Linked DNA regions of Homo sapiens: region 2 is linked to region 1. Evidence: fine-mapped expression QTL. A gene starts in region 1. The other region holds a variant in brackets. All regions are shown on one strand. Distances are between the middles of the regions.

Evidence for each region.
Region 2: its variant is fine-mapped to the expression of UPF3B in fibroblasts (GTEx, PIP above 0.99).

The regions. Positions count from the first base shown.
Region 1 is chrX:119,847,254-119,857,627 of GRCh38, reverse strand. It overlaps UPF3B (UPF3B regulator of nonsense mediated mRNA decay), which reads left to right and starts at 4,665. Exons shown (of 11, transcript NM_080632.3): 1 at 4,665-4,855; 2 at 5,755-5,861; 3 at 6,027-6,133. The coding sequence starts at 4,700. RefSeq lists an enhancer at 4,631-4,690.
Region 2 is chrX:119,813,458-119,823,831 of GRCh38, reverse strand. It overlaps a transcript of UPF3B not described here and the pseudogene LOC100422368. Among named protein-coding and RNA genes, the nearest start is that of RPL39, 27 kb to the right of the region's middle. The variant C/T (reference allele first, on the strand shown) is at 5,149.

The sequences.
Region 1 (10,374 bases):
ATGAATCATCAAACAATATGCACTAAAATCCCAGCAGCACTATTTGTATTAGCCCCTAAGAGTGGGATAAATTGCAGCAGACTCATACAATGGAATATTATGTAACAGTGAAAAGGAATAATCCACAGCTACATATAACATAAATAAGCTGGGCGTGGTGGCTCAAGCCTGTAATCCCAGCACTTTGGGAGGCCGAGGCGGGCGGATCACGAGGTCAGGAGTTCAAGACCAGCTTGGCCAATGTTAGAAACAAAATGCTTGTTCCTCGGTGCCACAAAGAAATAGCACTCGAACATAAATTTAATTTTCACAGCAAGACAATTTTTACTTCTATAGAAGGGTGCGACTCGTGAATGGAGTAATGGCAAGAGCACACCTGAACAAGGGAGGGGAAGGGGTTCTTATTCCTGACACAGGTAGCCCCTACTGCTGTGTCGCTCCCCTATTGGCTAGGGTTGGACTGCACAGTCTAAGCTAATTCTGATTGGCTACTTTAAAGAGACCAGGGGTATGAGCCAGAGTGGCGGGGTGAATAGTTTGGTGGGAAGGACGGTTAGGAACAGGTAACTAAAGGTGACTTAGGTCAGAGCAGGGACCAGGGGTGACTCAGGTCAAAGCGGATGACCGGGGTGAGTCAGGACGGAGCAGGTAACCAGGGGAACAGATGTGAACTACTGATGAAAACTGGTGGAAAATGTTGTTTACTGAAACTACGAGGAAGTTAAACTTTACAATGGAGGACAAAGAACTGAACATACTGACATACTGATTCTTTGAAGAGAGATCTAGATCTCACTGTATCCAACAGCCAATATGGTGAAACCCCATTTCTACTAAAAATACAAAAATTAGCCGGGCGTGGTGGCACACGCCTGTACTCCCAGCTACTCGGGAGGCTGAGGCAGAAGAATCGCTTGAACCCGGGAGGTGGAGGTTGCAGTGAGCCAAGATGTAAGCCAAGATGGCGCCACTGCACCTCAGCCTGGGCGACAGAGCGAGATTCCGTCTCTAAATAAATAAATAAAGAAATCTCAGTCATAAATGTTGAGAGAAAGGAGCCTAACATAAAAGAATACATGCTGTATGATTCAATTTACATAAAGTTCAAAACAGACAAACTCAATAGTATTAGAAGTCATTCATAAAAGGATGTAGCTGCTAAAAAAGAAAAAGCAAAAAGGATAGTGGTATTCTTGGTGGCGAAAATGACTGGGAACAAGTAGGAAGAGAGCATCTGGAGTGCTGGCAATGTTTTGTTTCTTGATCTACATGCTGGTTACATAAGTGTGTTCACTTTGTGAAAATTCAGCAAGCTGGATGCTTACTTTTAGTGCACTTGTCTGTACATCTGTTATACTGCAATTAAAAGTTTCATCAAAAAGGAAGTCTACAGTATGTGTTAGGTAGAATAATATCTCCCCCAAAGTTGTACACATCCTAATCCCCAGAACCCATGACTGTGTTAGGTTATATAGCAAAAGGAAATTAATGTTGCTAATCAGCTGTCCTTAAAATAGGGAGATTATCCTGGATTTTACAGGCGGACACAATGTAAACACAGGAGTCCTTCAAAGTGAAAGGGGAAAGTGCAGAGGCCAGGAGTTGGAGACCAGCCTGGGCAACACAGTGAGACCCCTTCTCTACAAAAATGAAAATAAATTAGCTGGGCATGGTGGCATGCACCTGTAGTCCCAGCTATTTGGGAGGCTAAGGCAGGAGGATCACTTCAGCTCAGGAGTTTAAGCCTTCAGTGAACTGTGACCCTGAAAAAAAAACTTGGAATGGCAAGGCAGAGAATAAAAGAGATATAGACAATAGACAGAAGTAGGGGCAGGGTCAGAGAGAGATGCTTGAAGACGAAGGGTTCATAAGCCAAGGAATATGGGCCGCCTCAAGAATCTGAAAAAGACAAGGAAATCTATTATCTCCTAGAGCCTCCAGGAAGGAACTCAGTCCTGCCAACACCTTGATTTTAGCCCAGTGAGACCCATATTGGACTGTTTGTTTATTTATTATTACTATATTTTTTTGCCCCCTCACAGGACAAAGCTAAAACCTTGTTGGACTTTTAACCTACAGAACTGTAAGATAATACACTTGCATTATTTAAACCCACTAAATTTGTGGTAATGTTACAGCAGGAATAGGAGGCTAATACAGTTGGTGTGGGGGAAGATCAAGTGTTCAGTTTTGGATGCATTCGGTGGCTGAACACGTTAGACGTCTTAAGTGGAGATGTTCAATAGGCAGTTGGATACATGACTCTGGAAATCATCAGGGAGGTATGGGCTGGAGATGTAAATTCTTTTTTTGTTTTGTTTTGGTTTTGAGACGGAGTCTCGCTCTGTCGCCCAGACTGGAGTGCACTGGCACAATCTCGGCTCACTGCAACCTCGACCTCCTGGGTTCAAGCGAATCACCTGCCTCAGCCTCCTGAGTAGCTGGGATTATAGCTGCCTGCCACCACGCCCGGCTAATTTTTTTGTATTTTTAGTAGAGACGGGATGTCACATGTTGGCCAGGCTGGTCTCGAACTCCCGACCTCAGGTGATCCACCCGCCTCGGCCTCCCAAAGTGCTGAGATTACAGCTGTGAGCCACCACGCCCGGCCTGGACATGTAAATTCTAGAGTAGAGTTGTCAGCAAAGACAGAAAAGCCAAAAGAATGAATGAGATTAATAAAGGAGTGAGTGTACATAGAAAAGAGGTCTAAGGACTGAGCCCTGGGACACTTTATTCTGGCAACTGACAAACAGCTGGTGGTTTAAAGCTAGTGAGGACACCAAAACAGAGGCATACACTACCAACATGCAAGTGCAGAGCTAAGCAGTAGGTCAGAGGCAGATGCATAAACAAGGCTCATAAGAACGGCCAGGTACTGAAAGCAAGAGTAACAGATGTCAAATACAGGGAAACCGTTTTAGCCACAGGAATAGGAATCCAAGAATAGGCTGGACAATTGGAGTGAGAAAATTTAAGTGCAGAGTCAGGGGAATATATTCTAGAGGTCGGCAAAAATGGGAGTTGGCCCTTAGGCAGCTTTCTGCCTTGGGCTCCTATTGCATCTTTAATTTGGTTTCTGTCCTCTATGGGTGTCTGTGTCTCTCTCTCTTTTTGAGATGGAGTCTCACTCTGTCACCCAGGTTGGAGTGCGGTGGCACAACCTCGGCTCACTGCAACCTCCGCCTCCCAGGTTCAAGTGACTCTCCTGCCTCAGCCTCCCAAATAGCTGGGACTACAGGCGCCTGCCACCATGCCCAGATAATTTTTGTATTTTAGTAGAGACAGGGTTTCACCAAGTTGGCCAGGCTGGTGTCGAACTCCTGATCTCAGGTGATCCGCCGGCCTCGGCCTCTCAAAGTGCTGGGATTACAGGAATGTGCCACCACGCCCTGCTAATTTTTTTTGTTTTTAGTAGAGACAGGGTTTCGCCAAGTTAGCCAGGCTGGTCTCGAACTCCTGACCTCAGGTGATCCACCCACCTTGGCCTCCTAAAGTGCTGGGATTACAGGCGTGAGCCACCACGCCTGGCCGACTGATCTGCTTTCTATCACTGTGGTTTTATTTTTCTAAAATTTCATATAAATGGAATTGTACAACATGTACTCTGTGTCTAGATTCTGTCACTCAACATAATCACTGTTAGATTCACATTTGGATTGTTTCCAGTTTGGAGTTATTATAAATAATGTAAAATTGGCCCTTTTTAAGTGAAGATGGTGATCGCAACTAAATCAAGTTGGGTTTTATTTTTATTCCCCTCCCTGTGGGACATCAGTACCTGGGGAGAAGGATCCTTTTGCTAAAATAAGGTGATGAAAACAAATCTTGTATATTTTAGTCATATTACTCCTTTAAATATCAGTATCTTGTGTTTATTTATTATTATCCTTCTTTTTTATATACAGGGTCTCGCTCTGTCGCCCAAGCTGGAGTGCAGCGGCGCGATCATGGCTCACTGCAGCCTCGAATTCCTGGGCTCAAGATCCTCTCTTCTCAACCTTCCCGAGCAGCTGGGACTACAGGCGTGCGCCACTGAACTCGGCTAATATTGTAGTATTTACTAAGTATCTGTAAATCCTAATCAATATAAGGAAAATAAAGTTTTTTAAATGTTAGGCTTTTTCTTTTAGTTGTAGGAAAATAAATGCTAAAGCCTCTGAATTCAATGATAAAAAATACAAGTCGCTCCCCTAGTGAGGCAAAATTTGGACGGCATTGAGTTTATCTGATGGAAACTAAGCGTGAAGAACCTATCTTTCGACCTGGAAAACTCTGAAGATGAAAGGATTCGATTTACTCACAAACAGGGACCCTGAGATAGCTCTGGCCCCTGAACGCCCAACAAAAGCGGGTAGCTGCTTTGTATGCCGGGATTTGTAGTCCCCGACAGAGTCACTTCAAGATGGCGGAATTGCTAATGACGCGCGAAGGGGCGGGCCCCGAGGGAGTCTGGGCCGCGAGGGGATTGGGTGGCGCAGGAACTTGGCGGGCGGGAAGTAAAAACCAGGTGTTAAAACCTTTGCACTGGGAAAGGCCCAAGTCTCGCGAGAGCTTGGCAGGACCCAATGGAACGTGGGGCCCGACTTATCACAAGGGGCATTTGTTGGGGGCGGAGCTTTGACGGGAGCTTCCCGGGAGCCGTTTGTGCCCGGGGTAACCCCGTTCCGGCCAAGCCGCTTCAGCGGGGGACGTAGCCATGAAGGAAGAGAAGGAGCACAGGCCTAAGGAGAAGCGAGTAACCCTGTTAACCCCCGCCGGGGCCACAGGCAGCGGTGGTGGGACCTCGGGGGACAGCTCCAAGGGGGAAGATAAGCAGGATCGCAACAAGGAGAAGAAAGAAGCGCTGAGCAAGGTGCCCGGTCGGCCGCTGGCCCGGGAGAGGGCGGGACGAGTCCGCAGCGCGGGGAGGATGGCTGGGAATGGGGCTGCCCCCTTTCTTTCTCAGGTTCTCCTTCTATCTCTTCGCCTGAATGGAAGTCGCATCATCCTGGTTCATCCATTCACCCGAAATGGGGAGAGCCCCTCCCGGCCAAATCCTGGGTGGGGGTGAGGAAAAGAGGGGACTCCCCAAACGGGAAGGGTTTAGGTCAGAGCTGTGAGATGATAATGGGAGGGAAGAGCGACGGTATAAAGAATGAGGAACTAAAGGTGTAATTGGGGAGAAATATTAAATAGTGAAGGAGACATGAGGGATGGGAATATTATTCATGGAGGCGAGTTGGGGGAGAGTGCAGGGTGATTAATGGTACAGGAGGGTAGATCGAGAGCATCCTATTTTGAGAGCAATGGGTAGATTTTTTGTATTCGTTAGAGTTTTGAATTCTTAAGTTCAATGGGCAAGGATTTTGTTTTAAGATGTGTTGGACGTGGGAGAAACTTGTTGCTAAATCAAGATTTCGTGGCACCCACAAAGACCAGCGTTGGCTTACTAAGTTATTGCCACTAGATCTGTTAAAAAATGGGTGATCGAAAATGATGCACAAACCTGGTAAACTGCAGGGCTGCTGTAAAGAGCAAAACCTGCGATTTTTCCTTGCTCCAGGTGGTTCTCATTTCCAAGGGTTTTTTTAAACCGCGTTACTATTATGTTTGACTAATTCTGAGCATTGGGCTGCAGAAGAATATTTTCTCCTGGGTTTTTACAAGTGATCTCATATTTTAAAGCCCAGCCTTCTTCAGGAACTGTGATTCTTTCAGGTATGACAGAAAACTGATTTGTACTAATTTTATTTTCCTTATGCATTTCTTAAGGTGGTAATTCGAAGATTACCTCCCACTTTGACCAAGGAGCAGCTTCAGGAACATCTTCAACCTATGCCTGAGCATGATTATTTTGAGTTTTTTTCTAATGATACGAGGTAAAAAAAAAAAAAAAAGGAAAGGGGTAAATGAAAAAGGTTTCTTTCATTCTTTTTATCCTACTGTTTTTCATTTGATTTTTGAGCTTGTCTTTAATATATGCATACTTGTAATTGGGCCAGACACCTGCGAGTACATTTACATAATTGCTTTCCTCTCTGCAGTTTGTATCCTCATATGTATGCCAGAGCATACATCAACTTTAAAAACCAAGAGGACATTATTTTGTTCAGGGATCGCTTTGATGGTTATGTATTCCTTGACAATAAAGGTGAGTCCTGGTAACTGAAGTAAAAAGGGAATTTCTTTGTCATTTGTATGTTTAAGACAACTCGTGCATTGCGTTGCTTCCTAGAGTTTTACACATTTAATAAGCTTATTGCAGTCTTATAAATAGACGTGACTTTTCACAGTCCTTGGTTATTTTTATTAACCTACTATTTTTTTAGTTTGATCAACTGAGTGAAATTGCAACTGTTTTCTCCTCGTGTGACACATTTTTTGCCCTGGCTTAAACCTGCTGTTTTGACTGTAGAATTTCAGCCGCAGTACTGATAAGTGACTCTTAAACTTGTTTGATAAGTTTTAAATATTTACTTCTTATTTTGCTTCGAGGACAAACATTTATTTAATTCAAATCCATTAAGCCAACAGTTCCCAATTGGGATACTGTTTAACATTCTCACAAAGTTGTATATAATTAAAACATGAAACTTGATACATCTCGGCCTGGTGTGGTGGCTCACGCCTGTTATCCCAGCACTTTGGGATGCCGAGGCAGGTGGATCACGAGGTCAGGAGATCGAGACCAGCCTGGCCAACGTGGTGAAACCCCATCTCTACTAAAAATGCTAAAAAAATTAGCCAGGCGTGGCGGTCCACGCCTGTAATCCCAGCTACTTGGGAGGCTGAGGCAGAAGAATCGCTTGAACCTGGGAGGCAGAGGTTGCAGTGAGCTGAGATCACGCCACTGCACTCCAGCCTGGCGACAGAGCGAGACTCTGTCTCAAAATCGAAAAAAAGAAACTTGATACATCTCTTACTTTATATCCAGAAAGGTCCAGTCTATAGGGAAGACACATTTCTACTTTAACACTCTATTATCTGCTACCTACATTTAGCCAGAGAATATCTAAGCTGCCATTTGCCACTTTTCTTTTTGGTTTGCAATTATAGGTAAATAGTGTGTCTTCTTGTTTTGTTTTGTTTTTTTCAATATTACTTCAAAGTTGGTAAAAATTAAATTTTTGTCAGGGACTATGCCAGTAAAAATTGAAGGATTGCCACTGTTTGTCCAACTTTTATTAATCTCCCCAAGCCAGCTATTTTTCCACTCCAACTATTTTATTCCAGTAGATATTTAACTAGATTCTAGTTACTTAGCCTGGAAATCTGAGTTGTGTTTAATTTTTTCCTTTTTTAAAAATCTCTTACATGTAAGTTATGAATCTTGTCAATTTATTGTTTATCTTTTGAGATAGGGTCTCCACCCAGGCTGGAGTGCTGTGGCGCAATCAGAGCTCACTGCAGCCTGGAATTCCTGGACTCAAGCAATCCTCCCACCTCAGCCTCCTGAGTAGCTGGGACTACAGATGTATGTCACCATGCCTGGCTAATTTTCTTTAAATTTTTTATAGAGATGGGGTCTCACTACGTTGCCCAGGCTGGTCTTGAACTCCTGGGCTCAAGTGATTTCCCCCCCCCCACCTCAGCCTCCCAAAGTGCTGGGATTACAGGTGCGAGCCACCATACCCAGCTCAACACCACTTATTAAAGAGACTATCCTTTCCTCATTGTGTTTTTTGTTTGTTTGTTTGTTTTGTTTTGTTTTTAAATCTTAGAGACAAGGTCTGCTTATGTTGCCCAGGCTGGATTTTATTGTTTTTTTTTAATATCTTGTTCACCTAGCCTTAAACAGTCACACTTTATGTCCTCATCACTTAATGCCTAGACAACCACTGTCTCTAAACTTACAGGATTTTCCATTTTTTTCATTCTTGTATAATTCAGTCTATTATATTGCCATGAAATTAATCTTTTTGAAAATAATGATTTAAATTAACAGTTGGGGGAAAAAGTCCAAACTCCTTAGCCTGGTAGTCAGGGTCCTCCATATTCTGGCCTCACTTCTGTTTCTTCAGCCTGTCTTCCACAATTTCCCTCTGTTTCAGTCTGGTTTATCTATTCCTTCTCAAATATATCACAGTTTTGTTTTTTGGTTTTTATTTTTGTTTTTTTTCTTTTTCTTCTCTCTCTCTCTCTTTTTTTTTTTGAGACAGAGTCTTAACTCTGTCGCCCAGGCTGGAGTACAGTGGCACAATCTTGGCTCATTACAACCTCCGCCTCCTGGGTTCAAGCAATTCTCGTTCCTCAGCCTGCCGACTTAGCTGGGATTACAGGTGTGTGCCGCCACGCCCAGCTAATTTTTGTAATTTTAGGAGATGGGGTTTCACCATGTTGGCCAGGCTGGTCTCAAACTCCTGGCCTCAAGCAATCCACCCGCCTCAGCCTCCCAAAGTGCTGGGATTACAGGCGTGAGCCACCATGCCTGGCCTAATATATCACAGTTTTGAAGCTAATCTGATTCTCTACTCACTGGGATTCCCAACATAATTTTTCCTCCATGACTGCTTTGCAGTGCCTTCTGGTCAATTCTGTTTATTTTTATTTTTCTGCTTATGTCTACATGCCAATGATTTAAGGATAGGATACCTTGTTTTTGACATTCTGTGACAGGGTGCTTGTGAATTTTTTTCCCATTAGTCACTTGGGGTTTTTGTATTGAAATATAACTCACCTATAATAAAATTCATCCTCTTAAAGCGTACAATTCAGTGGTTTCTGGTATATTCACAAGGTAGTACAACCATCAGTACTAATTCCAGAATGTTTTCATCCCTCCAAAAAGAAACCCATATCTATTAGTAGTTACCTCCCATTCTCTCCCTCCAGCCCCTGGCAACCACTAATCTACTTTATGTATCTATGATTTCCCTCCATTTCATATAAATGTAATCATACAATATGTGGTCTTTTCTGACTGGCTTCTTTTACCTAGCACAATGTTTTCAAGGTCCATCCATGTTGTAACATATAACATATATCATTACCTCATTCCTTTTGCATTTTTAAAAATTGTAAAAATACACGTAACATAAAATTTACCATCTTAACCATTTTAAGTGTACAGTTCAGTAGCATTAAGGTATATTCACACTGTTGTGCAACAATCTTGGGAACTTTTTCATCTTGAAAAACTGAAACTCTTTACCCATTAAACAACTCCTTATTTCCCTTCCTCCAGCCCCTGGCAACCACCATTATACCTTGTGTCTGTATGAGTTTCACTACTGTAGGTACCACATATAGGTGGAAACATACAGTGTCTGTCTGGCTTATTTCATTTAGCATAATATCTTCAAGGTGTATCCATGTCGTAGCATGTGTCAGAATTTTCATCTTTTTTTTTTTTTTTTTTTTTTTTGAGATGGAGTCTCACTTTGTTGCCCAGGCTGGAATGCAGTGGCGCGATCTCAGCTCACTGCAACCTCCGCTTCCTGGGTTCAAGCAATTCTCCAGCCTCAGCCTCCCAAGTAGCTGGGATTACAGGTACCCACCACCACAGCTGGCTAATTTTTTTGTACTTTTGGTAAAGATGGGGTTTCACTGTGTTGGCCAGGCTAGTTTCAAACTCCTGACCTGAAGTGACATGCCTGCCTCAGCCTCCCAAAATGCTAGGAATTACAGGCATGAGCCACTGCCCCCAGCCTCATTTTTAAGACTAATATTCCAGTATATGTATATACCACATTTTGTGTATCCATTCATCTGTCAAGGGGTATTCGAGTTGCTTCCACTCTTGGCTATTGTGAACAATATTGTTATGAACACAGATGTGCACATATTCGAGTCCTTGTTCTCACTGCTTTTGGATATATACCGAGAAATGGAATTTCTGGAGTCATTTGGTAATTCTATTTTTATTTTATTATTTATTTATTTTGAGACAGAGTCTCTGTCACACAGGCTGGAGTGCAGTGGCATGATCTTGGCTCACTGCAACCTCCACCTCCCAGGTGCAAGCAATTCTCCTGCCTCAGCCTCCCAAGTATCTGGGATTACAGACACCTGCCACCACACCCTGCTAATTTTTTATGTTTGTGGTAGAGACGGAGTTTCACCATGTTGGCCAGGCTGGTCTCAAACTCCTGACCTCAAGTGATGCGCCCACCTCGGCCTCTCAAAGTGCTGAGGTTACAGGTGTGAGCCACTGTGCCCCGCCGGTAGTTCTTTTTTGTTTTGTTTTGTTTTTTTGAGATGGAATTTCGCCCTCATTGCCCAGGCTGGAGTAAGTACAATGGCGCGATCTTCCCTCATTGCAACCTCCACCTCCTGGGTTCAAGCAATTCTCCTGCCTCAGCCTCCTGAGTAGCTGGGATTACAGGTGCCCACCACCACACCCAGCTAATTTTTGTATTTTTAGTAGAGATGGGGTTTTACCATGTTAGTCAG
Region 2 (10,374 bases), 34 kb after region 1:
AGCACTTTGGGAGGTCAATGCGAGCAGATCACTTGAGGTCAGGAGTGTGAGATCAGCCTGAAAAACATGGTAAAACCCTGTCCCAACTAAAAATACAAAAATTAGCCGGGCATGGTGGCGCATGCCTGTAGTCCCAGCTACTTGGGAGACTGAGGCAGGAGAATCGCTTGAACTGGGGAGGCAGAAGTTGCAGTGAGCCGAGATCACACCACTGTACTCCAGTCTGGGCAACAGAGCAAGACTCTGTCTCAGACAAAAAAAAAAAAAAAAAAAGAGGAAAAAAAGAAAAGAAATGGGCCAGGCGTGATGGCTCCTGCAGGTAACCCTAGCATTTGGGAGGCCAAGGTAGGAGGATCATTTAACTTCAGGAGTTCTAGAACAGCCTGGGCAACATAGGGCAACCCCGTCTCTGCTAAAATTTAAAAACCCAATGTGGTAGCACGGGCCTGCGATCCCAGCTACTAGGGAGCTGAGGTGGTAGGATTCCTTCAGTCTGGAATGTCGAAGCTGGATCATGCCACTTGCACTGCAGCCTGGCTGACACAGTGAGACCCTGTCTCCAAAGAAAATAAATTTAACCAGACATAAAAAATAATAATTAGGAAATGGTTGCTTTTCTTTGGAGATGGAGAGAGGAAGTGGGCAAGTTGTCATTTACCATGCCCTCATATATTTGGTCTTAAATGACTGGGCTTTAGTATATATTAATATATAAGGTATAACCTAAAAATCTCATGTAAAAGCTTAGTAGCATTGTTGTAACAGTAACATATTTCATTGTACTTCAGGACTGTCCATGGATGCAGTGTTACCATCGAGGAGCTCGAGGCCGAGGTCGACTCTGGCACCCTGATGACAAGTCTGGAGATTCAGCAGTAGAAAGAAAGCAGGAAAGTGGTATTAGCCATAGAAAAGAAGAGGAGAGGCCGGGCGTGGTGGCTCATGCCTGTAATCCCAGCATTTTGGGAGGCCGATATGGGTGGATCACCTGAGGTCAGGACTTTGAGACCAGCCTGGCCAACATGGTGAAACCCAGTCTCTACTAAAACTACAAAAATTAGCCGGGCTTGGTGGCAGGCGCCTGTAGTCCCAGGTACTCGAGAGGCTGAGGCAGGAGAATTGATTAAACTCAGGAGGTGGAGGTTGCAGTAAGCCATGATCGTGCCACTGCACTCTAGCCTGGGTGACACTAGGGAGGCTCTATCTCCAAAAAAATTAAAAAAAAATAAAGAGGAGAGGAGTACGCAGCAGAAGAGTAAGTTTTGTCTCAAAGAAGGAATCTGGTCGGAGGTTCAGAATTGGAAGTACAATTTTATTGTTTTTGCAATTTCTATAAATTAAAGTGTCAGAAAATGCTGATGGCGAGGACATGCATTGCAATTTGCAGGGGAAATGTCAAGTGAGGACTTCATCACGTGTGACACGAGAGAAAAGTAAGAGCTGGTTTTAAAATCAAAAGCTGTTGTTCATCCTGAATTGAATTTCTAAATTTTGGTGGAGCAGAGTCGCTTTGAAGCTTTATTCCCATCTATTTCTATTGCATTGCTAATGATAACTGTTGACTTTGGGTAGTGTAGAAGCAACAAGCATGTCCTTGTCTATAAGTACAGGGAAGGATAGAACAAACTTTCATTGATGCAAACATTTAAATAGTCATGTTACTTCTGTATCCAATGTCCTAACATTTTAGGGTTACTTTTGTTTTTTTATTTGCTTACATAAGCTTAGCATGAAGAATATTTTTAAACATCTCGTTTTGTCTCCAGCATTTTTTCTATTAAGAGGTAAAATGTAGTCCTTGTTGGATTCTTGACAATCTAGTTTGTTTTATCTCAGGTCTCATGATCTGGTGCCTACCCTCTCCAGGAAGGAAACTGCACCAATGTCTGTTGTTGTTACATATCAACTTTTAGTTTCAGTTTGTTTTGTTCTGATGTCAATACATAGTAACAGCAGTCAAGTATGAAGCTAAGTGTGGTGAGTAACTTTAGTAAACAGCTGTGAGGTTTTTTTTGTTTTTTTTGTTTTTTTTTTGAGACAGAGTTTCACTCTGTCACCCAGGCTGGAGTGCAGTGGCACAATCTCGGCTCACTGCAACCTCCACCCTCCGGGTTCAAATTATTCTCCTTCCTCAGCCTCCTGAGTAGCTGGGACTACAGGCACCTGCCACCGCGCCTGGTTAATTTTTTGTATTTTTAGTAGAGATGGGGGTCTCACCATCTTGGCCAGGCTGGTCTTGAACTCCTGACCTCGTGATCCACCGGCCTCAGCCTCCCAAAGTGCTGGGATTACAGGCGTGAGCCACCACGCCCAGCCAGCTGTGAGTTTTGAGAAATTAAATTTTTTATACTGTATTAGCCTCTTGGAAGTATCAAAAGCAGATGAATAATGTTAGTTTCTGCCTTCACAGGCATTGCCTTTGTTTTGTCCACCAGAGAAAGATCAGTTCATGGTTCACTCCTGTATTAGGCCGTTCTTGCATTGCTATAAATAAATGCCTGAGACTGGGTAGTTTATAAGAAAAGAGGTTTAACTGGTTCACAGTTCTGCAGGCTGTACAAGCATGGCATCTGACATTGCTCAGCTTCTGGGAGGCCTCAGGGACCTTTTACTCATGGCGGAAAGTGAAGCAGGAGCAGGCATGTCACATCACAGAGTGAGCAAGAGAGTGAGTGTGGGAAGGAGGTGCCACACTTTACAACAACCTGATCTGTAAGAACTCACTATGGAGAGGACAGCACCAAGCCATGAGGGATCCGCCCCATAACCCCAATACCCCACCAGGCCCCACCTACAACACTGGGGATTATATTTCCATGAGATTTGGGTGGGGACAAATTTCAAAACTACATCAACTGTTCTGGTCCCATAAGAACAAAATGTTTAGACAACATCCTTGAGCTTTTGCCTGATTTTCATTCATCCTGCCAGCCCTTCCTAACATGGCATCTGTTTGCCAGATGCCTGGGCTCAAACAATCTGTCCACTGTAGCCTCGAAAAGTGCTGGGATTATACGCATGAGCCACCGTGTCCAGCTTTATATGGATTTTTAAAAGAACAGAAGCCAGGGGCAGTGGCTCATGCCTGTAATCCCAGCACTTTGGGAGGCTGAGGCGGTTGGATCACCTGAGGTCAGGAGTTCGAGACCAGCCTGGCCAACATGGTGAAACTCCATCTCTACCAAAAAATACAAAAAAAAAAAAATTGGCCAGGCTTGGTGGAGCGCACCTGTAGTCCAAACTCCTCGGGAGGCTCAGGCAGGAGAATCACTTGAACTTGAGTGGCAGAGGTTCCAGTGAGCAGAGATCTCAATCCTGCACTCCTGCCTGAGCAACAGAGTTAGACTCCATCTGCCCCCCTCACCACCACACCCAAAAAAAGGCCGGGCTTGGTGGCACATGCCTGTAATCCCAGCACTTTGGGAGGCTGAGGTAGGTGGATCACCTGAGGTCAGGAGTTTGAGACCAGCCTGGCCAACATGGTAAAACCCCATCTCTACCAAAAAATACAAAAAAAAAATTTGGCCGGGCTTGGTGGAGCACACCTGTAGTCCAAACTTCTCAGGAGGCTCAGACAGGAGAATCACTTCAACTCGGGAGGCAGAGGTTGTAGTGAGCCTAGATCTCACCACTGCACTCCTGCCTGAGCGACAGAGGGAGACTCCATCCTCCCCACAACAAAAAGGCAGGGGATTGAGGTGGCACATGCCTGTAGTCCCAGCACTTTGGGAGGCCAAGGCGGGCACTTCACCTGAGGTTAGGGATTCAAGACAAACCTGGCCAACATGGTGAAACCCAGTCTCTACTAAAAATACAAAAATTAGCCAGGCACAGTGGCGGGCTCCTGTAATCCCAGTTAGTCGGGAGGCTGAGGCTAGAGAATCGTTTGAACCCAAGAGGCGGAGATTGCAGTGAGCCAAGGTCGTGCCACTGCACTCCTGCCTGGGCGACAGAGCCAGACTCCATCTCAAAAAAAAAAAAAAAAAAAAGGAAAAATAGAAAAGAAAAGTTTGTGGAAAATAGAAATAAAAGAAAAAAATATAAACTTCTCATCGTAAGATCCACCAAGGTCAAGACACTTTCATAAGCAATGATAACTAGCCATTTATGTATGTATGTATGTCTCTTGCTCACAACAATTACATACTAGTCATTTCATCCATCCCCTAAGAAGTGGAGGTCCTTGGAATTTAACCACATCAATGAAATCTTTTTTACATTATTAACTGAAGAGAAATGGTTGCCCTTTACAGACTTTTTAAAATTAGGAAACAAAAAAGTGACAGAAGAAGCTAAATCCCGACTGTAAGGTGGATGCCTAATGGTTTCCCATTGAAACTCTCAAAATTGCCCTTGTTTGATGAGAGGCACGAGCAGAAGCATTACCGTGGTAGAAAAGGACTCTCTGGTGAAGCTTTCCTGGGCATTTTGCTGCTAAAGCTTTGGCCTTCTCAAAACACTCTTATAATAAGCAGGTGTTGGCCGGGCACGGTGGCTCATGCCTGTAATCCCAGCACTCTGGGAGGCCGAGATGGGAGGATCACGAGGTCAGCAGTTCGAGACAAGCCTGACCAACATGGTGAAACCTCGTTTCTACTAAAAATACAAAAATTAGCCAGGCGTGGTGGTGCGTGCCTGTAATCCCAGCTACTCAGGAGGCTGAGGCAGGAGAACAGCTTGAACCTGGGAGGCAGAGGTTGCAGTGAGCCGAGATTGCACCACTGCAGTCCAGCCTGGGTGACAGAGTGAGATTTGGTCTCAAAAAAAAAAAAAAAAAAGCTGGTGTTACTATTCTTCGGCCCTCCAGAAAGTCAATAAGGAGAGTTGCTCAAGCAGCTCAAAAAACTATTGCCATGACCTTTGCTCTTGGCCAGTCCAGTTTTGCTTTGACTGGATCTCTTCCACCTCTTCAGAGTCATTGCTTTGATATTGCTTTGTCTTCAGAGTCATACTGGGAAAGCCACGTATCACCTCCCGTTACACTTTCCCAATAGATGCTTCATGATCTATTGGTTGGTGCCAACGTAATTGCGGCTTTTGACATTCCATGGCATAAACCACAATTAATATGCAGCAACGTAATAGATCTCACTTGTTTAAAATTTCCGTTGAAATCTCTGTTCTTGTCTGCAGCTGATCTGGTTTTGG[C/T]ACCCATCAAGTGGAAAGTTTGCTCAACTTTTAATTTTTCAGTCAGAATTGTGTAAGCTGAACCAATTGTGATGTCTATGGTGATGGCTGTTGTTTCTGCCATTAATAGTTGGTCTTAGTCTCTCACGAAGGCTGGAGGCCAGTGGCACAATCTTGGCTCACTGCAACCTCTGCCTCCCGGGTTCAATGATTCTCCTGCCTCAGCCTCCCAAGTAGTTGGAATTACAGACACCTGCCACCGCACCCAGTTAATTTTTGTATTTTTATTAGAGACAGGGTTTCACCACGTGGGCCAGGTTGGTCAGATGACCCGCCCGCCTTGGCCTCCCAGAGTGCTGGAATTACAGGGGTGAGCCACCACACCCAGCCGATGCTTTTCAGTTAAAGCACGAAGAGGATTTTTGTTGTTGTTGTTTTTTAAGACGGAGTCTCATTCTGTTGCCCAGGTTGGAGTGCAGTGGCATGATCTCAGCTCACCACAACCTCCGCCTCCTGGGTTCAAGCGATTCTCCTGCCTCGGCCTCCTGAGTAGCTGGGACCACAGGCTCATGCCACCATACCCAACTAATTTTTGTATTTTTAGTAGAGACGGGGTTTCACTATGTTGGCCAGGCTGGTCTTGAACCCCTGACCTTGTGATCCACCCGCCTCGGCCTCCCAAAGTGCTGGGATTACAGGTGTGAGCCACTGCGCCTGGCCTAATTTTTTCCCTTGCATATTGATGTGGATGACCTGCTGCTGCAGGCTTCATCTTCAACATCATTTTGTCCTTTCTTACAAGTTATCCATTTGTAAACTGCTGATCTCTTTAGGGGCATTGTCCCCATAAACTTTTGGTAAAGCATCAGTGATTTTACCGTTCTTCCACCCAAGCTTCATCTTAAATTTTATGTTTGTTCTTCCTTCAATTTTAGCAGAATCCATTTTTCGCTGATAGGAGCTCTTTTCACACTGATGCTTTCTCCTTTTTAATGCCTCAAACTAGATCCTGTCGAGATATTTTTTAACGAGTTAGTACCAGTTTATTTTGATGCCAAAAGATTTTGCAATCCATGCATAGTTTCTTGATAATACACATTTTCCATGGACTTTTTGAAGACTTCTCATATGACTGTTGATATGATTGAGCTCTGTTCCCGCACCCAAATCTCATCTTAAACTGTAATCCTCATGTGTCAAGGGAGGAGCTTGGTAGGAGGTGATTGGATTATTGGGGCAGTCTCACACATGCTGATCTTGTGATAGTGAGTAAGCCTCACAAGATCTGATGGTTTTAAACAAGGCAGTTTTTCCTATGCTCGCACTTCACCTCTAGTCTGCTGCCATGTAGCATGTGTCCACTTCCCCTTCTGCCATGATTGTAAGTTTCCTGAGGCTCCCCCAGCCATGTGGAACTGTGAGTCAATTAAACCTCTTCGGCTGGGCTTGGTGGCTCACCCCTGTAATCCCAGCTTTGGGATACCAAGGCCGGTGGATCACCTGAGGTCAGGAGTTCCAGACCAGCCAGGCAAACATGGCGAAACCCATCTCTACTAAAAATACAAAAATTAGCTGGGTGTGCTTATGCCCGCCTGTAATTCTAGCTACTCAGGAGGCTGAGGCAGGAGAAGCGCCTAAACCTGAAGGGCAGAAGTGTGGTCAGCCGAGATCGCACCATTGCACTCCAGCCTGGGCGACAAGAGCGAGACTACGTCACATATTTTATTTATTTTATAAATAAATAAAAATAAAATAAAATAATTAAACCTCTTCTCTTTATATATTACCCAGCCTTGGGTATTTTTTCTACTAGTGTGAAAACCAATTAATATAGCTGTGAAAGAAATGGAGATACATAGGTTAATGGTGTTAATGAAGCTTTATTTTAAATATGAGAAAGTAAGTAAGTTTAGAAGCCAAAAGGTAAGCTCTACAAGGATGAATACTCAAGAGAAAGAGACAACGAATACTGTAGGCTTCCTGCAAAGGCAGGTGAAAATGGAAGCCAAGGTAGAGGTTAGAGGAGTTGGCCTTAGGAGAAGCAACACTCCTGAACCCCCAGGCATGAGTTGACATCCTTGCCTCTTTGTCTAGCCTGTTTTCATGTCAGCACCTCCCTCTTCTGTTCTACTTGCCTGGCCTGTCCAGCTCTGGATAAATCACCCATCCCCACCCCACCCTCTTCAATTTCTTCCATTTGCTCATTCATTTAGCAAACATGTACCAATCACTGACTGTGTGCCAGGCCCTGGGGTCAGGGATTCAAATAAGTCCTTGTGCACGTGGAACTCATGTTTCAGTGTTGGCAAGAGGCAAATAGCAATAATCAGATCATGATGCACAATGTCAGAAGGGTCGCGGTAGCACAGGGTGTTGTGGGAGCCTCTTGCCCCTAAGCTGCAAGTGTCGCTGGAGAAAATCCCTCAAGCAGATCAATTGGTGAAACCACAGGAGAGCCTTCACTCCTGCTAAGCAATTTTTACCATCAGTCTTGAATTGATATCCTTTCCCCAGTGCCACCTTTCTTCTACTTTGCTCCCTTGCTCTCCTTTCTTGTGTTGCAGGCAAGGGGGGTGAGGACCACTTCCTCATAAAGCATAATTTCATGTCCTTAATAACTATAGGCCAGGCATGGTGGCTCATGCCTGTAATCCCAGCACTTTGGGAGGCCGAGGCAGGTGGATCACTTGAGGTCAGCAGTTGGAGATGAACCTGGCCTACGTGGTGAAACCCCGTCTCTACTAAAAATACAAAAATTAGCCGGGCTTGGTGGTGTGCACCTGTAGTCCCAGCTACTCAGCAGACTAAGGCAGGAGAATCGCTTGAACCCGGGAGGCAGAGGTTACAGTGAGCCGAGATTGCACTACTGCACTCCAACCTGGACAACCAGAGCGAAACTTCGTCTATGCAGGCAATCCTAGCATTTGGGAGGCCAAGGTGGCAGAATCATTTAACTTCAGGAGTTCAAAGCCAGCCCGGATAACATAGGGAGACCCCATCTCTATTAAAAATTTTAAAACTTAGCCCAGTGTGGTAGAGCGTGCCTGCAATTCCAGCTACTAGGAAGCTGAGGTGGGAGGATGGCTGGAGTCTGGAATGTCAAGGCTGTTGTGAGCTGCAATCTTGCCATTTGCACTTCAGCCTGAGTGACAAAATGAGACCATGTCTCTAAGAAAAATAAGTTGTACCAGGCTTATAAAATAATAATTAGGAAATGGTTGCTTTTCTTTGGAAATGGAGAGAGGAAGTGGGCAAGTTGTCATTTACCATGCCTTCACATTTTTGGTCTTAAATGACTGGACTTTAGTATATATTAATATATAAGTTATGACTTGAAAATCCCACGTAAAAGCTTAGCAGCATTGTTGTAACAGTAACATATTTCATTGTACTTCAGAATCATCCAGGGATGCAGCGTTACCATCCAGGAGCTCGAAGCCAAGGTCGACTCTCGCACCCTGATGACATAACCAAGTCTGGAGATTCAGCAGTAGAAAGAAAGCAGGAAAGTTGTATTAGCCATACAAAAGAAGAGGAGAGGCTGGGTGTGATGGTTCACGCCTGTAATCCCAGCACCTTGGGAGGCCGAGGCGGGTGGATTACCTGAGGTCAGGAGTTTGAGACCAGCCTGGTCAACATGGTGAAACCCCATCTCTACTGAAAATACAAGAACTAGCCAGGCGTGGTGCCAGGTGCCTGTAGTCCCAGGTACTCGGGAGGCTGAGGCAGGAGAATCGCTTGAACTCAGGAGGCGGAGGTTGCAGTAAGCCGTGATCTTGCCACTGCACTCCAGCCTGGGCAACAGAGTAAGACTCCATCTCAAAAAAAAAAAAAAAAAAAAAAAAGAAAGAAAGAAAAGAGTAGAGGAGTGTGCAGCAGAGGAGTAAGTTTTGCCTCAAAGCAGGAATCTGATCAGAGGTTCAGAATTGGAAGTACAATTTCATTGCTTTTGCAATTTCTATAAATTAAAGTGTCAGAAAAAGATGATGGCAAGGACATGCATTGCAATTTGCAGGGGGAAATGTCAAGTGAGGACTTCATCACATATGACATGAGAGAAAAGTAAGAGCTGGTTCTAAAATCAAAAGCTTTTGTTCATCCCAAATTGAGTTTCTAAATTTTGGTGGAGCAGAGTCGCTTTGAAGTCTTGTTCTGATCTATTTCTACTGAATTGTTGATGATAACTGTTGACTTTGGGTAGTATAGAAGCAACAAGCATGTCCTTGTAGTACAAGTACAGGGAAGAATAGAACAAACTTTCATTGATGCAAACATTTAAATAGTCATGTTACTTCCGTATCCAATATCCTCAAGTTTTAGGATTAGTTTTAGTTTTTTATTTGCTTATCTAAGCTTGGCATGAAGAATATTTTTAAACATCTTGTTTTGTCTCCAGCATTTTTTTTATTAAGAGGTAAAATGTAGTCCTTGTTGGATTCTTGACAATCTAGTTTGTTTGATCTTAGGTCTCATGATCTGAGTGCCTACCCTCTCCAGGAAGGAAACTGCACCGATGTCTATTCCTGTTAAATAGCAACTTTTAGTCTCAGCTTGTTTTGTTTTGATGTCAATAAATAGTAACAGCATTCAAGTATGAAGTTAAGTGTAGTGAGTAACTTTAGCAAACAGCTGTGAATTTTGAGAAATTAATTTTTTGATACTGAATTAACCTCTTTGGAGTTTGGAAAGCAGATGAATGATATTAGTTTCTGCCTTCGCTAGCATGCCTTTGTTTTGTCCACCAGAGAACGATCAGTTCATGGTTCACTCCTGTATTAGACCATTCTTGCACTGCTAAAAAGAAACACCTGAGACTGGGTAATTGATAAGAAAAGAAGTTTGGCCAGGCACGGTGGCTCATGCCTGTAATCCCAGCACTTTGTGAGGCTGAGGTGGGATGACCACTTGATGTCAGGAGTTTGAGACCAGCCTGGCCAACATGGTGAAACCCTGTCTCTACTAAAAATACAAAAAAATTAACCGGGCATGGTGGCACGCTCCTGTAATCCAAGCTACTCGGGAGGCCGAGGCAGGAGAATCGCTTGAACCCAGGAGGCAGAAGTTGCAGTGAGCCAAGATAGCACCACTGCACTCCAGCCTGGGTGACAGAGCGAGACTCCATCTCAAAAAAAAAAAAAAAGAAAAGAAAAAAATAAAAGAGGTTTAATTGGCTTATAGTTCTGCAGGCTGTACAAGTCGGGAATCTCACATTGCTCAGCTTCTGGGAGGCCTCAGGGAGCTTTTACT